Regions from separate parts of the Homo sapiens genome. Here regions 1 and 2 are each linked to region 3. Evidence: fine-mapped expression QTL. A gene starts in region 3. Each other region holds a variant in brackets. All regions are shown on one strand. Distances are from middle to middle.

Region 1 (4,249 bases), 760 kb before region 3:
AGTTACAACATACCATAATCTCTGGGACAAAGCTAAGGCAATGTTAATAAAAAAATTCATAGCACTCAATGTCCACATCATAAAGTTATAAAGATCTCAAATTAATAACCTAACATCAAGACTGAAATAAATAGAGTCAAGAACAAATCAACTCCATAGCTAGCAGAAGACAGGAAATGACCAAAATTAGAGCTGAACTGAAGGAAACTGAGACAGAAAAAACACCATTCACAACATTAACAAATCCAGGAGCTTTTATTTTTAAATAGTAAGACAGATGGGCTGCTAGCTAAATGAATAAAGAAGAAAAGATAGAAGCTTCAAATACACACAATTAGAAATGATAAATGGGATGTTACTACTGACCCCACAGAAATAAAAATAACCATCAGAATCTACTACATACACTTCAATCCACACAAACTAGAAAACCAAGAAGTGAATAAATGCCTGGACACATATACCCTCCAAAGACTAAACTAGGACGAAATTCATTCCCTGAACAGACCAGTTTGAGCTCTGAAACTGAATCAATACTAAAGAGACCATAATAAACAGATGCTGTCAAGTTTTCAAAGAAAAGGGAACACTTATACACTGTTGGTGAGAGTAGAACTTAATTCAACCATTGTGGAAAGAGGTTTGGCAATTTCTCAAAAAGCTAAAAACAGAACTACCACCAGACCCAGCAGTCCCATTACTGGATATGTGCCCAGAGAAATATAAATTATTCTACCATAGAGAGACATGTATGTGAATGTTCACTGAAGCACTGTTCACAATAGCAGAGACATGGAATCCACCTAGATGTCCATCAATGACAGATCAGATAAAGAAAATGTGGTACATATATACGATGCAATACTATGCAGCCATAATAAAGAACAAGATCATGTCTTTTGTGGAAACACGGATGAAGCTGGAGGCTATGATTCTTAGCACACTAATGAAGGAACACAAAGTCAAATACTGCATGTTGTTACTTATAAGTTAGACCTAAATAATGGGAACTCATGAAAACAAAGAAGAAAACAACAGACACTAGTGTCTACTTGAAGGTGGAGGGTGGGAGGAGGGAGAGGAGGATAAAAAATTACAACTGGGTACTAGGCTTAATACCTGGGTAATGAAGTACTCTGTACAACAAATCCCCATGACACAAGTTTACTTATATAACAAACCCCTAATCTAAAATATAAGTTAAAAATATAATAAGATAAAATAAAACACAAGCTGAGGGATTTCATCAACACCAGGCATGTCATACAAAAATGGTAAAAGGTTTTCAATCTGAAATAAAAGAATGTTAATGAGCAATAAGAAACCATCGTGCAAAACTCACTAGTTATAGCATGTACACAGTCAAACACCAAAAATTATACCACTATAACTGTGCTGTGTAAACTTCTCAAATTGTGCATAGAAAGATTAAAAGATTAAAGTTTGAAAGGTACTGTTTTAGTAGATTGTTAGATACATAGGTACAGAGCTCAGTAGGAAAGTTGGGTGAGAGTTAAGGACATGGAAGTCAATATCACATTATCAAACAAAACCATAGTAATCATGAAATTGTGATTATATTGAAAGAATGAAAATTTCACCATCCACTTCATTATGGTATTAGATTGCATTTGATTCTGAATATTTTTATTATCTATATTTATAAATCATGATTTTCTACTAAAAATTATAAAGTTGTAAAAAGGCAATTTCAACAGAAGTGAATATAATTTTGCTATTTGATTATTGTGTTTCAGGGGATAGAAATACAATAATCAAATAGCAAAATTATACTGTAGCATACTTTGCTACTGTAACTGCAAATGGAACCCTATATTATTATTTATTAGAAGTGAAAGAGAAGATACGGAGATCCAGATGCATTGTTTAGATTTCTAAAATATTTATCATAAAACAGTTTGAACAAACCAGTGCAATTAAAAACTCTCTTTTCTTATAAATTTAATTTCAAAAAATATATATCTGGCAAATAATTCACTCAGAAAGTCAACGCTTGGAAAATTTATAAACAGAATAACATAACTTTTCTATAGGCATAAATTATTTTTTTCTATAAATAAGGTGCCCCAGTGTGGTTTCACCCTTATATAGCCAATTTGTCAACCAAGACCCCATGCCAGGCAGATACAGTTAAAAAGCTGTCTAAACATGTCTTTATTGTGCTTTTCAGTTTGGTTCCCACATTTCAACCCAGGACTCTCATTCTGCCCTGAACAGTGTGAGTGCATTTAATTACAATCTGACATGTGTATTGGTGAGAAACAAAAGGCTGTGAACTGAGGGTGATGATTAACTGTTCTACTGGATAATTGCTTAAACTACTACTTATATTATGTGGCATTATCTCTTTTGAACAAAGTGATTATTGGCTTTTTGTGTAGTGATTATACAGTGTAAGTGCAATCTTGCTGTGTTAATTTTGTCAGAGTGTATGTTTAATATACTTCCTTTACAACGAGGCATGCAACTTTAGATATTTCTTATTTGGTTGAGTCCTTCAAGAAACAATCTTCTACAGCTT[C/G]ATTTGTCTGTTTGAAATGCACAACATCTTCTGGCCTTCAAAGAGAAAGGAAGCAAAGACATGATGATACAGTATTCAGGAAGAAAATAAGACATACTTGCAACTTTTGTATGCATAGCCACAGATGGCAAATACATTCAATATTATAATTTTGACAAAAAGGTTCTAAATGGCTATAAGGGAAAATAGATATTTTAAAAAATTAAATATTTAAAAAAATTTTTTAAATTCTTCTATGGACAGAATGTATATGCCACATACTTTATTCACTTGTCAAATATGTAAAGATATTCACCAGTAGTTTCCATGATGAAACTATATTGTTGTTTCTATAGAAAATTATAATTACATTTTTTAAAAACTTTAATTTATATTTAGGTAATTAAGTCTTACTGAACTTTACTCCTTTCCAAAAACTGTTCATATTTCAAGCTCTTGTTTCCTCAAAAGAAAATGTTTTTGATCCTATTACGTTAGATTGCATTTGGTCTATTTAAAGATTTTTTAAAAATTCCTTTACAGTTATTTCTGATGAAATCAAAGCACACGCTATGTTAATGCTTTTCTTTAGGCATAATTAATATACAATATACTACATATAGAAAAATGTACAATTTGATAAGTTTTGAAATATTTATATGTCACTGTACCATAACCACAATCACATCAATTAATATAGATTTAGTCCTAAAGTTTCCATGGGTCTCTTTGTAATCTTTACCTCTTGCCCACCCCTGAAACTCTCCATTCCAACCCCTAACTACCACTGCTCTGCTTTCTGATGGTATAGATTCATTTGCATTTTCTATAAAGTTAAATATAAATGGAGTGGTAAAATGTGTACTCCATCTGGCTTTAATATTAAATGCAGGTTTTCGAAGCATGCCAATTATTAGGTTGAGGAAGGATCATCTACTCATGGTATTTATAACAAATGAATGTTGAATTTTGACAGGCTTTTTTTCATATATTGAGAGTGATTATCATAGTTTTTTCCTTTCTTATTTATTAATATGATGAATTATACAAATTGGTTTTTGAATGTTAAACCAAACTAGCAATCCTGAGATTAACTCTATTTGTTCATAATATATTATCCCTTTTTTATATAGTTGGATTTAATTTAGTAAGTGTTGTTAAAGTGTTGTATTTTTATGAAGGATATTGCTCTGCAATTCTTTCCTGTATTGTTTTTCTCAATGTCTTCATCTGCTTTTGGTATCACTGTTATAGTGGTCTCATAGAATTAGTTAGGAAGTGTTCCCTGGTCTTTATTTTCCAAAAAACTTTGTGTAGAATTGATATTATTTGTAGATCTCCAATAAAGTCATCTGGGCCTGGACAATTTTTGTGGGCAGATTTCTTTTTTCTTACAAACTCAGTATCTTTAAAAGATATAAAGTCTTTTAGCTTATCTACGTATTCTTGGATGACCTTTTGCAGTTTGTGTTTTTAAACTGGCTTTTTTAGAGCGAATTGAGTTTGTTCCATCCTCTTTAACTTTTTAAAAGTTTATTAACGTTTCACATTAATTATTCTTTTAGTGTTCTGTGGAAAGCATTGAGTCCTGGGCTTTACAATGTTTTAAGTGTATTGATTAGTAATGCCACGTTGCTACTGTTACAGGTCTCTTTAGATTCTGTTTCCAGTTCACGTTTCTAGTTGAGTTCTGTGGTTGTAGAAACATCCATTTCGTTTAGGTTATCA
Region 2 (4,249 bases), 22 kb after region 3:
TATGCATCCCTGGATTTTGGTATCTGCGGGTTTTGATACAGGGGTGACCTGGAACCAATCGCCCCATGCACGCTGCCAGGTGATGACTGTAAATGGTCCTCTGAATCAGTGACTCGCTGAGGGAATCAGGAAGAACAATCTTACCTTTCTGCTCAAGCTCAGGCTCACAGTTTAATCTTTTAACCTCCCTCTGCATCAGTCTAAGTTTCAAATAATAATGGTAATTTATTTCCTCTGTTATTAAAAAACAAGACCAAAAAAACCACAAACAAAACCCTATCAAGACTGGTGGGGTATGACCTGTATATTTTTAGCTTCTGAAATTTGTCCTATTACTATTTAAAATTAAAAGAATACATTTTTCTATTTATAAATATATTTAAGACTGCCAAATGATAGCTGTTCCTTACCCAACATTAGTTATAAAGAAAAAAAGCAATTCCAAACAAAAATGATATTGCAACAAAAACATGATATATGTATTTTGTGAAAGAAGTACAGCTGCCTCAGAGACAATGAGAGGCTATGAAAATAAAGGAAAACCATCTGAGCTCTGGTTAGAGACTCTGGAAGTAGTGAGCACAAATTTCTTTGAAAGAAAAAGAAGAGGAGTCTGATGTAGGTAGACAATCCAATTCTAGTTACTGTCTTTATTTGTGATAGTCCATAGTCTAAAAAGGTGCAAATACTATTAACTAGCCTGAGGACAAGGTGGCAACTGCATTTCATTCTGAAATGGAAAAATCCAAGGAAGGTAGAAGAAACAATTGCATGAGAATTATTACTCAATTATTTTTCCTCAAAAAGCTGTGTATCTTCTTTTTTGAACTTTGGGAAAGCATATATAAGAGTTTCTTTGACCCCGAATAGTCCATGTATTTACCCAGAAATATTTGTGTATCTTGCTACTGCAGCAGGATTACAAAATAGATTACAACTCTACTGTAGAAAGAAAATATGTTTTTATATAATCTGTAACTTATCTGGGTAGCTAGAAAACATACACACACACACACACACACACACACACACACACACACACACACACACACTACATTTTAATCCTGGCATCTCAGTCAACTCCCATATCTGAGTGGTTCTTTCAAATAATGCTTCTGAGTCTACAACTTTACCTTTCCTTCTCTAAGAAGTGTCAGGGCATATGGCTGGAGGAACTTAGTATATAGACCTAGATAGAGCTCAGGGTTTTGGGGACCAGTTATGAAGGGGCTGAGGGATCTATAGGCCACTTCCTTTGATAAACCTCTGTACCAGCTCTTTTCTTCCCAAAATTTCCCCAAGTAACAAGGTTTAGTTTAGTTTTTTTTTTTTTTAAGCTTCTTACTCATAAGCTTCTTTCATGGCAAACCCTGATATTTTTTTCCTAGGTAGAAAATTATTTGGATTTATCCATCTAATTCTCTGATACAGTAAAAGATAGCTATAAACTTTTAGCAAAATTTATCTCTATGAAGATTTTAGACTTTGAAGCTTAACTGACTAAATTTTTCCAATACTTGCTCTCTATTGTCTGAAGGGTAGACATTTCCTTGCCTTTAAGAGGTGGAAAGCCACAAGGGAACAAGTCCTTAAAGAGATAGTCTAAAAAGCCCTTTCTAATCTACACCACCTCCAGCACCACCAAAAGTCTTCAATTTTATCCACATATTTGTTTCTATGCGATAACCGATATATTTTTGAGTTACTTTATTTCCCAACCCCCTCTCCGTCCCACCCCCCACCGCCAACAACTAGAGTGCAAATTCCATGAGATCAGGGTCTTGGCTTTTTATTATTTTTTCATTGCAGGACCTACCTACAATAATTACTGGCACATAGGAGCCACTCACTAAATACTTCTAGAATGAAAGAAAATAAAAATGTGATGCATCCTTACAGTAGATTATCCACTGCAAATTTTGGTTGCTAGCAAGCATGCATCTTTTGTGCTACTGCCTCAAATGGGCCTTCTGCTGCAGACATACTTATCTATTGACAGTTCTTTTGAACCACCATTGCTCTTCATGTTTTCTTGCTTTAAATCATGCTGTTGCCGCTGCCTAGAAGGTTCACTTGTGAACCTTCTTGTCTTTCACACTCCTAAATTTCCTCAAAACATAAATCAGGTGTCCTGGTCTCCAAAAGTATTTCATGATAAACTTTTTCTTTCTCTAAGTCCCTGTGCTGACATATAACCCTCATACCCTATGCTGGCCCTAAACTTGTTCTTTCTCTACGTCCCTGTGCTGACATATAACCCCCATACCCTATGCTGGCTCTTAACTCACTCTTTATACTATTCTCTCTGATGGAAACTCATGGACTTTGTTAAGGGAGGCATTGAAAGCAGGAACTGTTTGCTATTTCTGGCATCAAAAGCAAAATGCCTGGTGCATGACAACTATTCATAAACATTGAATAAATGAACAACAACCCACCTTATTTCTCTCTCATGGTACTACTCTTTATTGTTTTAAACTTCTATAGTTATCCTGGGGAAATATGAGAGTAATGAGTTTTCTTGAAAGTCAGGTGCAGGGACATTTATGGCAATAC[T/C]TGTCTTGAAGATCAACTACATCAAAGTTTCAAGACTAACTAGAATAATTCTCAAGGAGAAGGAAAGAGGCATTCAAGCTTATTTTGGAGTAGTAAATAACAGTGATTCTGGTGTCCAAACTGTCACAAAGACAACCACTGCCATATTAAGCTTCTAATACTAAGAAAAGTGTCAGGTATACGGTAGTAGATCCTGATGAAACTCTTCAGAAACTGTTTCTGCACTTTACCTCATCTGGCAGCTCTTGGTGTGCGCTGAGGTAATATATTAAATTTGTGGTGTAATTAGTTTAGAAATTATTCCCCTAGGGAACAAAGATGGTCAAGAGACAAAGCTTGATCTAAAGTTGACAGCCTGGGAGACAGGCCGAATTTGGAGGTGTTACCGTAGCATATGTGGCTTAGTATTGAATAGGTCAAAATATTAATGACCCATCCTACACACAACCCAGGGAAAAATGACTGGGCATTGTGAGAGAGTGTGGGTGTCTTGGCAGAAAGGTATTACATCTGTTTCTTCCACATCTATGAGTGAATTATGCATGCTATGACAAGGAGGCTTTTTTAAATATGAGAAATTTGAGGCAAAAATGATAGACCAAAAAAGTGCAGAGAAACAAGGTGAGTAATGAAAGGCAGAAGTGGTATATTGGCAGGCCTGGAAATCAGCTGTGAGTAATTTGAGTTAATTAAATGTGGCATAAAACATTTGGAGGAAAAGGTTGATGAGATCCAATTAATGGGCAAAAGAAATAATTTTCTGAACAGTAACATTTGGGCTATATCAAAGATAAAAGTGGTATGTGATAAGAGATTGAGAAAATGAACATGATAATTCTTTTGTCACATGAGGAAATCTGAGGTGAGGCTGAGAACCCTGTCTCGATGTAAGGAAGAAATCATCTTCAGGAAATGGCAGTTGCATAAAACAAAAAGGGAGACTCAGGGGTATAAGCAAGTGGATTAAAAACTTGTCTGATTTATTCATAAATGATCTGACTCCATTTACTTCTGTTTCTCAGATTTCTTGGGAATTGATAAGTATATTTTCTCCATAGTACTTCTTGAGATGTAGAACATCTAACATCAATACTGATTATTGAGTTTTGTTGTTTTTCTCTAACTCAGAGATTTTTATTTTAAAGCAGCAGTAAGCAATCTATAATTCACAGCAGTAAACTATAATCTACAAGCCAAACCCATTCTTAGCTAAGAATGCTTTTTACATTTTTAAAAGGTAAAAAAAGGAAAAAAAATGAAGAATATGTGATTATGTAGTCCACAAGGACAAAAATATTTATTACCTGCAGTGCTTAAATTTAAAGGGTAAAATTAATTAAAGAAATCCTCACATTAGAATTACATGTAATATAATTATATGTAATAAACCTAATTATATTACATATAATGCATGATCCTCTACGAATTTAATTTGAATGTGAAGATTTCTCTAATTGCATATATATAAACATACACCTACAGTTTTATGTGAGAGAACAATTCTGTCTTACACATTATATGATTTCACACCTTTGAGGATAGATTGCTAGATAAAAGAGATAGGAAAAAATATTTAGCAGTTTCATAGTTCATTGGGGTCAAGAAGAAAGAGGAGTGTGGCAAGTTCATTTTCTTCTTACAATTACAACATCAGAGAAGAAATGAAGTAAAAAAAAAAAAAAGTGAATCAGAA
Region 3 (4,249 bases):
ATGGGGGAGGACTTCCCCCTTGGCTTTCTGGTGGTAGTGAGTTCTCATGACATCTGGTTGTTTAAAAGTGTGTAGCACCTCCCCCTTCTCTTTCTCCTGCTCCAGCCATGTAGGCCCTGCCTGCTTCCCCTTTGCCTTCCACCATGATTATAGGTTTCCTGAGACCTCCCCAATCATGCTTCCTGTACAGCCTACAGAACCACCAGCCCTTCTTTATAAATTACCCAATCTCAGGTAGTTCTTTATAGCAATGCCAGAATTACACCAAGGTACCTTACTATTGTATGATGTCAATAGGAGACACTGGGAATGGGATATATGGGAACACCCTGTATTATTTCTTCAATTTTTCTGGACACCAAAGCTGAAAAATATAGTCTATTAAATAAAAAAAGTAGTGATGATTTGATTATAACATCAGTGTAGTGATAGAGATATCTATAAAAACAGCAATAAGGAATTAGCTGTTGTTTCTATTGGAAACAAAGTCCCAGGTACTCCTAACATTCTTGTGGTTTGTTGCCTACATTATGTTTAAAGGACATGCTAAATGCTAAATTTCAGTTAGAAGTTAGTGAAACTAAAAATGAGATTTTTCCCATTATACTTAATCTGTATAAAAGGAGTATATGAATAGAATTCCATTTATACAGATTAAGAATCTCCTGCTCTATGGTAATATTAACGGGCTAATGTTATGAAAGTGAGTCTCAGAGCGATGAATTAAGCTGTTCTAGCTTTCAAAGAGCATATATTCTATGACCAAGAATTCTAACTAAGTTTTGTTGGAAAGCTGTTGGCTACATTATCACCTAACTTTGGGACTGATAGATGGATGGAAACATCTCATTTAGCAAAGGTGCTTCCCTGGCCTTGTGCAATTGCACTGTTTAGGTTGCTGGACAAATCCATAGTGTAAAGCTGGCCTGTATCAAGTGACGGTCAATTCAAACAGCAAGGCAAGTTAAAAGAGGGAACTCCATTCCACAGAACCCTAGTGTCAAGGAACCTCCCGACTGGAAAATGACTCAACAGCTAGGCGGAAACCCTGGCTCAGCTACAAAGAGAGCAAATTTAGTCCCATTTTTCCTTAAACATTCAACCCTCAAACCTGAAGAGATTTGGGAAAGAAGCAAAACGGGAGGGTGGGGGAGAGAGAACAGTCTTGTTAACAGCTAGTGTTAATTTAAAAAGAGAAGGAAAGGGCTTATATGAATACATGCTTATTTCATTCCCAAAGCAAATTTTCATAAATCCTTAGGGAAAGAGAGATAGTCATTTGCTAATGTAGACTCTGCTTTTTGATTCCCAAATGTTACAGCTGTCACCACAACAGTTTGCCCAATTATGTGGCAGGGAGGGGAGGGGGTCCAGAGCAAAGGAAGTAGGAGGAAGAGATGTTAGAGGGAACATCTGTGCACAAGTGCACCATAAACACAACAAAATCATGGGGCCACCCCACTGTTTCTTTGAGCGCTTTCTCTGGTTGGCCCCACTTCTCCAGTCTTTTAGGAGATTCCCGTTCTATTACGTAGGTGAGAGGGCGAAAGGTTCTAGCTTTCAAAATTGTGAGTGGTTTGGCTGTGTGCATACGTGTGTGTGCGCGCGTGTGTGCGTGTGTGTGTGTGTTTGCGTGTGTGTCTGTTGGCGGGGGCGGGGGTGATGGAGAGAGCTATGAAGGGCTTAGAAAGCTTCATTACCAATTTAAAATGTTTTTGTAGTGCTTGAATGTTTATCTTAAAAGACAATTCCTGCTCTCAAATTCAGCCAAATGAACAATGCTGATAAGGAAGATGAAGAGGGTGGGAAACCCACAGGGGCAAATGGAACAGTCCATGCAGCCGGGGTGACGGGGGAGCGCTCGGAGGAAGGACGCTATGCAGAGAAAGCCCCCCTGGCTCTTCTCTCTCAATCCATAATCCAGCGATGCTGCAGCTGTAAAAGCATTAATAGAAAATCAATCCACAACCTCGCGGGGCAGCGATCGTCGAGCGCCGTTTCCAGGCTGCCTTCCCTGGGGTCGGGAGCGGCCCCGCTCCCCCCGTGGCTGGCGCGGAATGTGGTGATCCGTCCCGGGGCGGGGATGACTTCATGCAGCCGGAGCTCCGCGGCGGGAGCGGAGGCTGCTGCTGGCAGGTGGGGCGCGGGCCGGCGCGAGCTGACCGAGCACTCGGCGGGCGCGGCGGGACTGCGGCCCGTGGCGGCGTGCGCGGGGACCTGCGCTGACTAGGTCCGGGGAAGGTAAGCAGCCCGGCACCGGTGCGCCCTGGCCGCACTGCGTGGAGCTTTCCGCTTGGTTAATAATGGGGTTTGCAGCACGGAGGGAAGAAGGGGAGAACCCCGCTGCATTCTGCAATGAGAAAAGGAGCAACAACTAGGATGGAAATGTTGGGCGGCCAAGTGCAGAGGTTGGAGGAGCAGTGTTACTGGGCAAACAAAGAAGGCGTTCTTGCCTCTATACTCTTTTGAACGTGATCTACCATTTCAGTGCCAGATTCGCGTAGACAGTGAAGAGGACTCAAAATTTAAAATAATTTGAGTTACTCTTTTGCTTTCTGTGCCTTTTACCTTCGCTTGAGTATTTTGAGGATTTGGAGCAGTAGGTCCCTGGCAGCAGCCTGAGGTAATCAGAAATCGTCCCTCTTCCTGTAGTCCTTGGTCCTCTCCCTTTCCAGTTATCAGAATGGGTCTGTGCCCCTCTCAATGGCAAAACACCTGCTTCAAGACTGAACCTTTAGAAAGAGCCTCTATCTGGAGGGGAAACTTCTCTTATCTCCTGGAGTTCAGCTTGGGTTGAGCAGCACTTGACATCGCTTCTTCCTTCAATTGCCATTTTCTCTGTCAATCATTTCATTGATCTTTTTCGGAGATGCTGTGCCCATTCACAGACCAACTCTCGTCAGCTCTTATCCACCACCTGGGTTCCATGACTGATTTTGTCAAGGTCCCAAAAAGGGCATTGCCTCACACAGATTTCTTATTCGGTATTCTCCCTGTATACTGTTACCTGTGTCCTTCCCCCAAATGCATGGAATGAAATATCCTGCTTGTGGCCCTGTACCAACATGTTATCCCATTAACTCCCTTCGCTGTAGTCACTGTGGCTACTTGAAAGCTAGAGAGGACAGATAGAATCTACTGGAGTGTGAGGGATGTTCCCTATGCATAGGCATAGGTAGAAGTAAAAATGTGAATGCCAGTCCATCCAGTTTTTCTTGAAGCAATTTTAGTCCAGTTGGATTTTGAGACAGCTAGCTGTTAAGATTTGGGACAAATCCTTTCCAAAAGGCAGAGGAGTCCGTTTGCCTCTAGGATTCCTCAAGAACCTCAAAAGAGTTTCCAGTGAGGTTTTCCTCGTAGGCAGTCAGAAAGCCAATGGAGCTGCCCAATCTAAGCCTCTGGTTGAGTATCCTCTAGTTTGTCTTGCCATTTGCAGGTTCCTATCCCTCGTCCTAGGATTTTCCCCACAGACCCCTTGCTACTGAGCCCAAGTGCCTATCCTTGTTGCCACCTAGAGATGTACATTTGAATAATATGCTGTGAAATGGTTAAGATGGCTGTTATGGGGATTGCAAACGTGCCACTTCACCAACAGAGAACAGTTGCAATAAGCCAGATTGTGGGGTATCTGTGTGCCAATGTTCTATTTAAAGGAAGATCTGTTATCTTTAAACTTAAAATTACAGAGACTGTCTGACTCAACAGCCATGCAATTTTATTTTAGTAAATTAAATTAGAAGATCAATGAAAAAGAGGGGCAGAGTTGGTAGCTTAAAATTTTACCTCTTTCTTTCCTCTTCAAATATTATTTTTAAGCAAAGACACTAGTATGGAAAATCGTGTTAATCATATTATATATCATTATTGCCTTTCTATTACAAATTTCGTTTTTACAAAATGCACTTTAGAAAGATTTGAATTTGTTTCTTTGTCTCCATCTTCAGTATATGAGGCATAGGGTGAGGGTGTAGGGGGTGGGCAAAGCCCACTACTGAGTGATCCACTCCAGGAACTGCCCCTTGGGGTCTTAATAACCTTATGTTCCTTTTTTGTTGTTGTTATTATGTGTTAAACAGGGTTTTGGTTTGAAATATTAACTTCTTGAGATTCTAGAATTTTTACTCAGTCACATTAACTATGAGGTAACAAAGAACAAGATCAACAACAAACCCTGTATTCTACCACCTTTTTTCTACTATTAAAATACTTAACCATATACATCATTATTCTGAATAATACTAATATAGAA

Which allele goes with the higher level. Alleles are on the strand shown, and positions count from the first base shown. SD is a standard deviation of normalised expression in the study named. Not every link is listed here.
With allele C in place of G in region 1, the expression in hippocampus of the gene that starts at base 2,113 in region 3 is higher (moderate effect, 0.71 SD a copy in GTEx).

The links. PIP is the estimated chance that this variant, and not a neighbour inherited with it, causes the effect. A credible set is the group of variants that fine-mapping cannot tell apart.
Region 1: its variant is the best candidate, but not a certain one, in a credible set for the expression of PKIA in hippocampus (GTEx, PIP 0.85).
Region 2: its variant is the best candidate, but not a certain one, in a credible set for the expression of PKIA in whole blood (INTERVAL, PIP 0.83).

Annotation. Positions count from the first base shown.
Region 1 is chr8:77,751,948-77,756,196 of GRCh38, forward strand. No RefSeq gene overlaps it. Among named protein-coding and RNA genes, the nearest start is that of PEX2, 750 kb to the left of the region's middle. The variant C/G (reference allele first, on the strand shown) is at 2,543.
Region 2 is chr8:78,535,858-78,540,106 of GRCh38, forward strand. The region is part of intron 1 of PKIA (cAMP-dependent protein kinase inhibitor alpha); the gene reads left to right. All of the region lies in intron 2 of PKIA-AS1 (PKIA antisense RNA 1), which reads right to left. All of the region lies in intron 2 of LOC105375911 (a long non-coding RNA gene), which reads right to left. Among named protein-coding and RNA genes, the nearest start is that of PKIA-AS1, 21 kb to the right of the region's middle. The variant T/C (reference allele first, on the strand shown) is at 2,557.
Region 3 is chr8:78,514,228-78,518,476 of GRCh38, forward strand. PKIA (cAMP-dependent protein kinase inhibitor alpha) reads left to right here and starts at 2,113. Exons shown (of 4, transcript NM_006823.4): 1 at 2,113-2,241. All of the region lies in intron 2 of LOC105375911 (a long non-coding RNA gene), which reads right to left. RefSeq lists a silencer at 2,058-2,357 and an enhancer at 2,678-2,787.